Homo sapiens: one gene and its partners. The protein of the gene in region 2 interacts with the protein of the main gene of each other region in a pairwise test. Each region holds a gene or a part of one and is shown on either strand. Other genes may lie near its edges.

Region 1 (3,650 bases), on a different chromosome or scaffold from region 2:
AAATACGCCAGGAGTAGGTAAAAACTTACAGGTAAACATTGCCAAGAAATAAGGATTTTCATGTCTTCTGCTCAGTGGCATAACTCAAATCACATGAGATAGATTTCTTTGCATCTGTCCATTGTATTTCTCTGAGGCTAATTTACAGCACTTTGTCACGTTAGGTATTTTTTTTCCCCAGTGCTGCTACTCTCCAACTGGATTTCTCACCGCCTCTATTGCGATTCCCCAAGATTTAACCAGAGAATCTTAACATATTCAGAAGGGCAGCTGTACCTGTGAAAGGGCTTGGGCTTTGGGGTCAGCCTTGGCTTTGCTTTCCACCTCACAGGGTTTCTCTGTAAATTGCTTATGAATCTAACTCTGGTAGCACATAGTTGGGTTAATAAAAGTTCTTTTTTTTCTTCATTCTTTTACCAAAAAGAAAAAAATTCCCTGCAGGGCACTTTGCAGATGTTTTCATACTAGACCTCTCAGTAGCTTCTGACAGAAAATATACTGCCTTTGACTTAATAGTCATTTATGAAAATAGGTCATTTAAAACAAGCCTGAGTAGGAGTCAGGGGAGGGAGAGGAGGTATAGAGAGTGATTATGACTTTAATTTTGAAAGGAGAAGTTTTACCAGGGTGACCCTGAAGAAAGGTCTTTTTCCTCTTATGTGTTTATGGTTCAAGAGACTCATCTCTTGCTTCAGAAATTGTCAGAACTGTTTCTTCTGCTTTATCCAATTTAAAAGATGAAAACTTAAAATTACTTGAGCCAAGTGATGGGAAAAATTGTGGTGTCAAGACCAATTTACTCATACAAAATGGATTTATGGGCAAGTCATTAAGTAACAGGGAGTAGCAAGGAAGCCTAATGAAGACTAATGTAAAAGATACGGCTTTCCTAAAGTGATGGATAAAATGTGTTTGAGGCAACCCATATACTCTTTTCCAAATAACCTTAGAAGTATTTTTTTTCCAAGAGGTTTAGTAGAATGTAGATATTCTAGAGAACAGATGAGAAGCTTGTGAGCCCCTCTTGTCATGTGGCTTACAGTATTTTGAGGGAGAAAAGACCCACATAAAGAATACAAAAGAGGGCATAGTGACAGGTTATAGCAAATAAAATCAAATGCCAAACTATGTGATGCCAAAAGTAGGTGAGATGGGCATCTGCACTCTGCTATGGAAAGTAGAGAGTGGAACCCAAGCAAGTTCCTGCTTAAAACCCCTGTTTCCTATCATTGACAACAGTATTTCCCCTTGCCAGTTATTTCCTAGGCTTGTTCAAATAGATTGCTGGCTCCTACCCCAGAACTACTGAGTAGAATCTCCAGCTGATCCTAATGATTCAAGTTTGGGAAACTGACCCAGAGCCTCAACTCTGTGCTCCCTGTGAATGTGGCACAGCTCCCTGCCGCAGAGGCGTCTCCTCCTTGCCTATGTAGATTTTACGTTCTACCCAGACACTTGTTCCGTGCCTTTTCTGACTTCTCTTCTTTCAGCTAGGGGGTGACGCCTTTTCCTTCAAATTCAGCTCAGGTGTTAACTTCCAGAAATTCTTTGATCTGCCAAGCCTGGGGTAAGAGAGTGTTCTCTGCCCTTTTGTGCATAATTCTATCAGAATACACATCACCTTTGTAAAATTCTGCATTTACATGTTTCTTGCCCTCTCTGGAATGTAAACTCTGAGGGCTTAAGGCCTTGTCTTTGTGTTACATTCCCCAACCCTGTGCGCCTGAACTTGACAGGTGCTCCGTGAAAGTTGGAAGTGTTGATTGCCTTCAGGAAGAGATTGATGTTAATTGGAATACAGATAAAGCATAATGGACAAGGCGTTATCTTTGGTGAGCTTAGAAGAACATATCTGTGTTTATAAAAAGGTGTGGAAAGTTAATATTAATAATACTTTTAAAATAACCTATACTGTCAAGCAACTGATAGTCAAGATTTGCATTCTTTTTTCTGACAGTTATTAACTCTTTCCAGCTTTTGCTTTTCAAATGTTTTTAATCTGAAACTGTAAATACTCTATGAGCAGATGAAATTAGTAATAATTAAAGTAGTTAATATCTCCATGAACTAGAATCACATTACAAAGCATTTTAGTGATTTTTAACACAAAATAGCTACTTTTATCTCAGTTTTATACATAATGAAACTGTGGCATAATGGGATTTAGCATCTGTGATAGGAAATGCACCTGACTCATCAGTTGAGTATCAGGCCTTCAGAGTTAATATTCTCTCTAGATGTGTTCAGCCTCAAAACAGCATGTATTCAAAATGTAAATAAGGCGGTTTATAGATGAATGGGAAGATTTGTGTATTTTCACTAAACTCATTAAAGGTACTGAATCTGTTACAGTATTTATTTTGTATTTTTTCACTTTGTACTCAGAACAGTGTAAATAAAATTACTGTGTGATCTGAGTCCTGAATGAAAAGTGGTTGTCCTGAATAGTAGTTGTAATAGTAGTTGTAATTGTAGTTATCTGTTGAGATTGTGGAGCTAATAAAATAAGCTAGAAATTCAGTGGAAAAGTTAAGTTAACATTTGTTGAGCAAAATAATTTATTGCATTTTAAAAACATCTTTCAAACCTTGGGGGCAGTGTAGATTGTCCAAATGATAGCCCAAAATTCAAAGATAATTTCTGAAATTTGTATTTTCTTTTATTTGACTTAGGATGTTGACTTTTCTTGGCTAAATAAAATTATTTTACTTAAATTATGATTGCGTTTGTTTACTCACACTCTTTAAATGAGTTTAAATTCTTCTAGATTTTAAGTTCTTTAAGGCAGAGCCTTTGTGTATGACATGTTTTTGAATTTCCTTGCTCAGTGTGTACATGTACATGTAATTTGTTGAGCCCAGTAACCTAGAGTTCCAGCTTACTACAACTGCTGATCCCGTGTGAATTCACTATGAGAACGTCTCCAAATAATCCTTCTCCACACAAACTCAGATTATTGAGTGGATGGACTTAGAATGAAATAAGCATAGTGGAAGAATGTTTAATGAAAAAATAATGGAAGAATATTTAATGAAAAAATTTCATTGAAAACAAAAGAACAGCTTGAGTTCTTGAAGGGAATCCTTAAAATATTGTATCCATACTAACTTTTAAGTCTCAGTGCTATATAGCTGCTGAATAATAGTGATGCTGAATTTGACTGAAACAGAAAAATTAATTTCTGAAATATTTTTACTCAGTTTTTGCTTAACTACAGTTTTATTAACTTACCAACATATTTTGAAAGAGAGCTATTTTATAAGAAAAGATGCGTTTTGAAAGGAGTGATGTGCAGCTTTGCATGTCTGATGCTGTTGATTTGGGTGTGTAATGCTATCTCTTTTTCTGTGTTAGACTCCTGTTATACTTGAGTTTTAAGACTTTTTTCTTCATTATTTAGAGCACATATCTGCTATAGTCCTAATAGAGTAATTAAAAATCTTTGACTGTGTTATTGACTTTCAGAAAGCTGTTTAAGGTTGTGATTAAGAGTATGGGCTGGCTATCCACTTTCTAGCTGTGTGACCTTGAGCAGAGTGTTTAATCTTTCTGTGTCTTCTTCTTCATGTGTAAAATGAGGATAAAAACAATACCTCCCTTTTAGGGTAGAGCAATTTAAATTGATTAATATATATAAAGTTCTTGGAAAA
Region 2 (3,750 bases):
GGAGAAGTGTGTCAGTACCGTCCCAAACTTTTATCATTGAAAGTCATAGAGGAGGGTAAGAAACAGGAATACTTTGTATAGGCTTTCCATCTTACAAAAACACCAAATAATACCTGTACATTCATTTTAAGGACAATAAACTGAATCTATGGACAGTGAGATACTTTTTTAGCAAGGTTCTTCTGCATTATGACATTGGTTAGCAAATGTTTATAAGGGCCAGGCACAGTGGCTCACACTTTGGGAGGCCAAGGCAAGAGGATGCTTGAGGCCAGAAGTTTGAGACCAGCCTGGGCAACATAGCAAGACCCCATCTCTACAAAAAGAAAAAAGATTTAATGCCAGATGTGGTGGCACATGCCTGTAGTTCCAGCTACTTAGGAGGCTGAGGCAGGAGGATCACTTCAGCCCAAGAGTTTCAGATCATGGTGAGCTGTGATTGTGCCACTGCACTCCACCCTGGGCAACAGAGCAAGATCCTGTCTCTAAAAAAATGAAAAATGTGCTCACATTGGCAGCACATCTACTAAAATTGGAACAACACAGAGAAGATTAGCACGGCCCCTGCTTAAGGATGACACGCAAATTCATGAAGTCTTCTATATCTTTAAAAATAATTAATGAAAAATGTTTATAAAACATTCAAAAATAAAAATATTAAGCATACTATGCCACATTTAAGTGAAAAAACGAATTAAAGTCAGTATTTGCATTGTGGGTTTTTGGGAGGGGTTTGTTTTTGAGGCAGCGTCTCACTTTGTTATCTAGGCTGACTGCAGTGGTGTGATCACAGCTCACTGCAGCCTCAAACTCCTGGGCTCAAGTGATCCTCCCCCCTCAGCCTCATGAGTAGCTGGGACTATAGGTACACGTTACCACGCCCAGCTAATTTTTTATTTTTTACTTTTTTTTTTTTTTCCTTTTGAGACAGAGTCTTACTCTGTCGCCCAGGCTAGAGTGCAGTGGTGTGATCTTGGCTCACTGCAACCTCTGCCTCCTGGATTCAAGTGATTCTCGTGCCTCAGCTTCCCGAGTAGCTGGGATTACAAGTGTGAGCCACCACACCTGGCTGGGTTGTTTATTTTTTTTAAGTCAGTATATATGTAGAAAAATTGTAGGGATATTATCAAAATGTTAATCCTCCATACTGGAATTATGGATAATTTTTAAATTTTCCTTGTTTGTCTATTTTCCATATTATCTACGATGAGTGTGTATTTTTTAAATAAGGAATTTTTTATTAGGCAACAATTTTTTGTTTTTTTTTGAGATGGAGTTTTACTCTTGTCACCCAGGCTAGAGTGCAATGGCGTGATCTCCGCTCACTGCAACCTCCGCCTCCCAGGTTCAAGTGCTTCTCCTGCCTCAGCCTCCCAAGTAGCTGGGATTACAGGCACCTGCCACCACGCCCAGCTAATTTTTTTTGTATTTTTAGTAGAGACGGGGGTTTTGCCATGTTGGCCAGGCTGGTCTCGAACTCCTGGCCTCAAGTGATCTGCCCGCCTCGGCTTCCCAGTGTGCTGGGATTACAAGCGTGAGCCACCATGCCCAACCTAAGCAGCAATTTTTTAAATAGTGGAGAAAAATATTGGGACCAAATTGGTTTAGTAACCTAAATGGTCTGCCGAGGTTCTCCCTAGAAGACTTGTTGCCGTAAAGGGAAAAAGAGTCTTGTTACAGTTTAGATCTAGACTACAGAGCTGGTACGGTGGCGCACACCTGTAGCCCCAGCTACGTAGGAGGTAAAGGCAAGAGGATCCCTTTTTATTTTTGTCTTTTTACTTTTTTTGAGACGGTCTTGCTGTTGCAGAGGCTGGAGTGCAGTGACACATTCATGGCTCACTGCAGCCTTGAACTTCAACCTCCCAGGCTCAAGCAGTCCTTCCACCTCAGCCTCCTGAGTAGCTGGAACTGTAGGTGAACACCACCACACCAGCTTTTTTTTGTTTTGTTTTTTGGTGGAGTTAGTTAGGGTCTCACTGTGTTGCCCAGGCTGGTCTCGAACTCCTAGGCCCAAGTGATCCTCCCACCTCAGCCTCCCAAAGTGCTGGGATTACGACTGTGAGCCACTCCACCCGTCCTTAAAATAATTAAAAAAAAAAAAAAGTCTAAGGCCACATTGCCTCAATAACCTCCCTCTTGGATTCTCTGCAGTGGGGGAGATAGCTGTCTATAAGCAGCCCTAATTTTTTTTTTTAAGGAAATTAATCGTGGACTAATAGAAAATTAATCCTGACTAATATGGGATTTTGGATCACATAAAGCTCTGTTATACAAATACTTATTACTGCCTATAATCCCAGCACTTTGAGAGGCCAAGGCAGGCAGATCATGAGGTCAGGTTTCGAGACCAGCCTGACCAACGTGGTGAAACCCTGTCTCTACTTAAAATACAAAAATTAGCCAGGCGTGGTGGCACGTGCCTGTAATCACAGCTACTCAGGAGGCTGAGGCAGGATAATCGCTTGAACCCAGGAGGTAGAGGTTGCAGTGAGCTCAGATTGCGCCACTGCACTTCAGCCTGGGTGACAGAGAGACTCCATCTTGAAAAATATATACATATACTGATCACTATTAACCTCATTGTAAGTATGTATCCTATAGTAGTGTTGTCAGGCATTTCTTTGAAAAACTTACCGGTCCCTAGGAGAAGGATATTTCAGTTCCTGTCACAGTTATGAAAAATAATCTGAGCCTGATAGAGGAATCCATTTGCCTTGAGATCTGTGCTTTCTATTCTTGGTCTTCAGGTGAAGTTTTCAAACCTGTCTCTTTTGTAGGACTTGGAAAAGGAGAGTGACACACCCCTCCAGCAAGTATCCATTGAAGAAATTCTAGAAGAACAAAGGGTGGAACAGCAGACCAAGCTGGAAGCAGAGAAGTTGAAAGTGCAGGCCCTGAAGGACCGAGGTCTTTCCATTCCTCGAGCAGATACTCTTGATGAGTACTAATCTTTTGCCCAGAGGCTGTTGGCTCTTGAAGAGTAGGGGCTGTCACTGAGTGAAAGTGACATCCTGGCCACCTCACGCATTTGATCACAGACTGTAGAGTTTTGAAAAGTCACTTTTATTTTTAATTATTTTACATATGCAACATGAAGAAATCGTGTAGGTGGGTTTTTTTTTTAATAACAAAATCACTGTTTAAAGAAACAGTGGCATAGACTCCTTCACACATCACTGTGGCACCAGCAACTACTTCTTTATATTGTTCTTCATATCCCAAATTAGAGTTTACAGGGACAGTCTTCATTTACTTGTAAATAAAATATGAATCTCAAAAGTGTCATGTTATTTCCAAGTTTGAGTTACCTGTAATGAATAGATTAATAGATTAATTAAGTTTCTGCTCTCAAAGGTATAAGCAGTCCACATACTGGGATTTCCCCCTTCAGTCACAGTTTCAAGTAGCTGGCTACTTAGGAAGGAATATTTTTATTCCAGTCATCTCAGGGGTCCTCTCCTGTTTCCATGTTTGTATCTGTTAAGAAATACAAATGTTCGGCAGGGGCGGTGGCTCATGCCTGTAATCCCAGCACTTTGGGATGCCGAGGCGGGTAGATCACCTGAGGTCGGGAGTTGAAGACCATCCTGACCAACATGGAGAAACCCTGTCTCTACTAAAAATACAAAATTACCAGGGCGTGGTGGCGCATGCTGTAATCCCAGCTACTTGAGAGGCTGAGGCAGGAGAATCACTTGAACCTGGAAGGCAGAGGTTGCGGAGAGCCAAGATTGCACCATTGCACTC
Region 3 (3,750 bases), on a different chromosome or scaffold from region 2:
CCGTCTCAAACAAAACAAAGCAAAACAAAAAAAACAGTTAAGATTTTTTTTTTTTTTAAATGATTCAGTGGAAATAGAATGGATTCTTCAAATAACTTAGCCACGGGTGGGATAAGGGACCTACTTAGTAAGTATTTTTTCCCCTTCTTTCTTAAAAATAGATCGATGTCTTAGGGTGGGAATTAGGCTTCCTGGGCGACACATCTAATGCAAAGATCAGCCACCTTTTTCTGTAAAGGATCTGATGGTAAACATTTTCCACTTGGAGAGCTATGCTCTTGCAGCTACTCAGCTCTGCTATTGCAGTGCAAAAGCAGCTAAAGGCAACGGTAAAGGAATGAGGGAAGGAGCCTTAGTTTATTTACAATAAAGCTTTATTTGCAAAAGCAGATGCAAGCCAGACTTAGTTTGCTGATCTCTGATCTACAGTCAGAATACACAGAGAAGGAGAGATTTTGCCGTATAATTTAAAATACTTCTCTTTGCAAAAGCAGTCCATAAAAAAAGTGAGGACGACAAACTGAGAAAAATTATTCACAACATGTCTGATTGATAGAGCACTAATATTCTTAATTCAAAAAGACATTTTATCACAAAAGAAGACAAATACTTAGAAAATTGTGCAAAAGACTTTCCATTTTGTTGCATAACGTAGGAAGCTTTGGTTTTACTTTTCCTATCATCTTTCTAACTTCCAGTACCAGCCTAATTTTGTTATTTTTATTATTATGTATTTATTTTGAGACAGAGTCTTGCTCTGTCTCCCAGGCTGGAGTGCAGTGACCTGACGATAGCTTACAACAGCCTCTACCTCCCAGGTTCAAGAAATCTTCTCACCTTAGCTTCCCGAGTAGCTGGGACTGTAGGCACATGCCACCATGGCCAGCTAATTTTTTATTTTTTGTAGAGACAGAGTCTCATTATGTTGCCGAGGCTGGTCTTGAACTCGTGGCTTCAAGCAGTCCTCCTGCCTTGGCCTCCCAAAGTGTTGGGATTACAGGCATAAGCCACTGCTCCCAGCCTTATTTCGTATATTTACTATAAGTGTGTGAAGGTCATGATCAGAACTGCCATATATTTTGGCGGGAAAATCTATCACCCTCAGATCCAGAGTCCATGGATATCTTGTTTTTAAAACGAAGATTTAAAAAATTACGGCAATGGCAGAGATGGAGCCCCAAGAGAATACTCAGCTTTAACCCAAGGTGTTGACAGGTTGGAAACAGTGGCTAAATTTGGGGATTGCAGTGGGGCGAGGCAGGGTGCAGGTCAGAGGGGGCCAGAAGGGCCCCAGCCATCCTAGATGGAGCCACAAGTACCAGTGCCAAGGCTCTTGGTCTGGAATTCTGAAAACATTTACCTCTGACCCTGGCAGCCCACTGGCCATTGCTTGTGTGCAGCCCAGTTGGCAGGGAACCCTATCCATGATTTGCCGCCTCTTTTCTGGTCCCTTCAGTATGAACCCAGCATCACAGTGCACTTGTGGCAGATGGCAGTGCATACCCGGGAGCTACTCTCCTCCGGCCAGATGCCCTTCTCCCAGCTGCCCGCCGTGTGGCAGCTCTACCCCGGGAGGAAGTACCGAGCAGCGGATTCCAGTTTCTGGGAAATAGCAGACCATGGCCAGGCAAGTGTGTGGTGGTTCTAGGTGAAAGCGACAGGTGGCCCCTGGTGACTGCCGTGGCCCTCTCTCTTCTGTGCCCCTGGCCCCCTTGGGGTTCTTGTCTGTCCTCTTCCTGTTGCTCAAGTCTTCCTTCAAGGAGGCCTGAGTGTGTGTGGGTGGATCGGTGCATGAGTTCCCATGTGGGATGCAGGCAGAGTGGGTGAGGGAGGGAGGGTTGCCTTCCCTGGGCTAGGGAAATCCACAAGCTGGAGTTCCCACCTGCCTCACCCCTGCCTGCTGCTGCTGCCAGCCTGCATGGGCGGCCGTTAAGGCCAACTGGAAGAGCATCTCCCAGAGGTTCTGATGGCTGCTCCCTCTCCTGCAGATTGACTCTATGGAGCAGCTGGTCCTAACATATCAGCCGGAGAGGAAAGACTGACACTGGGAGTGGCTGGTATGTTGGGGCCCTGTGCGTCTCAGTGTAGGGATCAGACGAAAGTGAGAAGACCTCTCCTCTTTTCAGAAAGACGGCGTGGCCTCCTCCTCCCTGCTGTTTGCTGAGATTTTTCTTACATAGCCACCTGTCACCTCTGTTCCCCAGCCCCTTGGATGTGATGGTACACAGTGGGTGGGCCCCCATAATAAGTTCCTAAAGCATGGGATCTCATCGAATAAGACTCATCATTTAATCCTTGTGAGAATTTTGTGAGGTGTACGTGTTAATGTCCCATTTCACGACGAAAAGACAAGACTCTGGGGATGGGAATGACTTCCTCGAGACCATACAGCCAGGAAATAGCGGTGAATCTAGTGATCTCGGGTCCCTAGATTTAACCATGGCACTGAGGTGCCGTGTGACGGTGGCCTTGGAGGACCCAGCACTGACCCATAGAGGGCTCCTCTCAGATGGGCAGCAGCTTGGAGCAGGCCAGGCAGGGCCTGGGCCATTGGAGGGGCTGGCACTGGACTTGCCTTTGACCCCAGCAGCTTGGATGGGGTGCCGGGCTCCCCCATAGTTCACTGACTGTCTCCTTTGGTCTTCTCGCAGGCCCTGCTGGCCCTGCCTCTTCTGGCCTGGTGTCTCCTCATGCCCCCTCAGTGAGGATCTTCATGTACCTGCTCTTCTGTTTGCACACCCAGCATAGCCTCCTTGCAGGCAGAAGGCAGTAGGGCCCCTGCACACTCAGTTTCTCTCGTTTTCCTTAGTTATCAGTCCTGTCCTGTCCCACTCAGGTCTGTACTTAGGGCAGCTGGCCTGGATGGGCTTCACTGGGGCCCTGTCTGTGTGCTGAGCCAGTTTCCCCTGCTGGCTGCAAGCTGTGGGTTCTTTCTCCTCTGTGCCCCTCATGCTGATCTTCTAGATGCCACTCCCAAATCCCCTTCATACCCACCAGGATGTGTGCCCAGCCAGGCCTCCAGCACCCCCAGTGCAGCTCGTGATTGGAAACTCACCATCGGCAGGCAGTGGTTCGGTTTAAGAGATGGCATTAGAGGGAGCCCAGTCTGGATGTGGACTTGGATGCCCTGTGGGTATCAGTTCTGCTGACACTTTGGCCCGAAATAGATCCAGTGCTGAGCAAGCAATGTACACCAGAGCCTCAGTGAGCCCATCTGCACAGTGGGGAGCATGGAGGGATGGGTTTGGCCTGTGCTTCTGCTTATTCAGTCCTTCAGCTCACGGAAGGGATGCTAGTCCGTGAAGGTGACCTCACAGTACTGGTTAATTAAACTTTATTGCTCACTGTCCACTTTTGTGCTGAATTGGAGCCTCTCTTTGACCTCTTTCTAGCATAGAAATGGCAGCTTCTGGTACCGAAATGTTAAGGTAACATTTTAATGATCCATTTCATATTTTTCCACACTGGGAAGGAAATTGTGATTGGTCCATTCAGCAGCAGGACGTCGGCGGGAGTTAAGGAAGGGGAGGAGACTCGTGCGGGCTCTGGGTGAAGCCCTGCTGTGAAAGGGCAGGAAAGCCCGTAGTGGTCACAGGAGAACCGGGAGCAAGGGAGAGCTCCCAAAGCGAGACAATGCAACAGCATGTCATTGCAGGAGATGCAGAATGCAGGTGCAAGGGAGGAAGGGCCCATGTGTGGGAGAGTATGACATGACAGAGGAGCAGAGTCCTTGAGCAGGGAGGGATGAGG

Evidence for each region.
Region 1: the proteins of LSM1 (region 2) and LSM6 interact in binary tests that used the Homo sapiens proteins (3 or more experiments, as listed by UniProt).
Region 3: the proteins of LSM1 (region 2) and TCL1B interact in binary tests that used the Homo sapiens proteins (3 or more experiments, as listed by UniProt).

The regions. Positions count from the first base shown.
Region 1 is NC_000004.12:146,178,603-146,182,252, forward strand, and holds part of LSM6 (U6 snRNA-associated Sm-like protein LSm6), read left to right. Parts: intron 1-3,650. UniProt on the Homo sapiens protein: Plays a role in pre-mRNA splicing as component of the U4/U6-U5 tri-snRNP complex that is involved in spliceosome assembly, and as component of the precatalytic spliceosome (spliceosome B complex).
Region 2 is NC_000008.11:38,162,871-38,166,620, reverse strand, and holds the end of LSM1 (U6 snRNA-associated Sm-like protein LSm1), read left to right. Parts: intron 1-2,780; coding exon 2,781-2,951; 3' UTR 2,952-3,282; downstream 3,283-3,750. UniProt on the Homo sapiens protein: Plays a role in the degradation of histone mRNAs, the only eukaryotic mRNAs that are not polyadenylated. Probably also part of an LSm subunits-containing complex involved in the general process of mRNA degradation.
Region 3 is NC_000014.9:95,689,280-95,693,029, forward strand, and holds the end of TCL1B (T-cell leukemia/lymphoma protein 1B), read left to right. Parts: intron 1-1,456; coding exon 1,457-1,627; intron 1,628-1,988; coding exon 1,989-2,042; 3' UTR 2,043-2,057; intron 2,058-2,651; 3' UTR 2,652-3,349; downstream 3,350-3,750. UniProt on the Homo sapiens protein: Enhances the phosphorylation and activation of AKT1 and AKT2.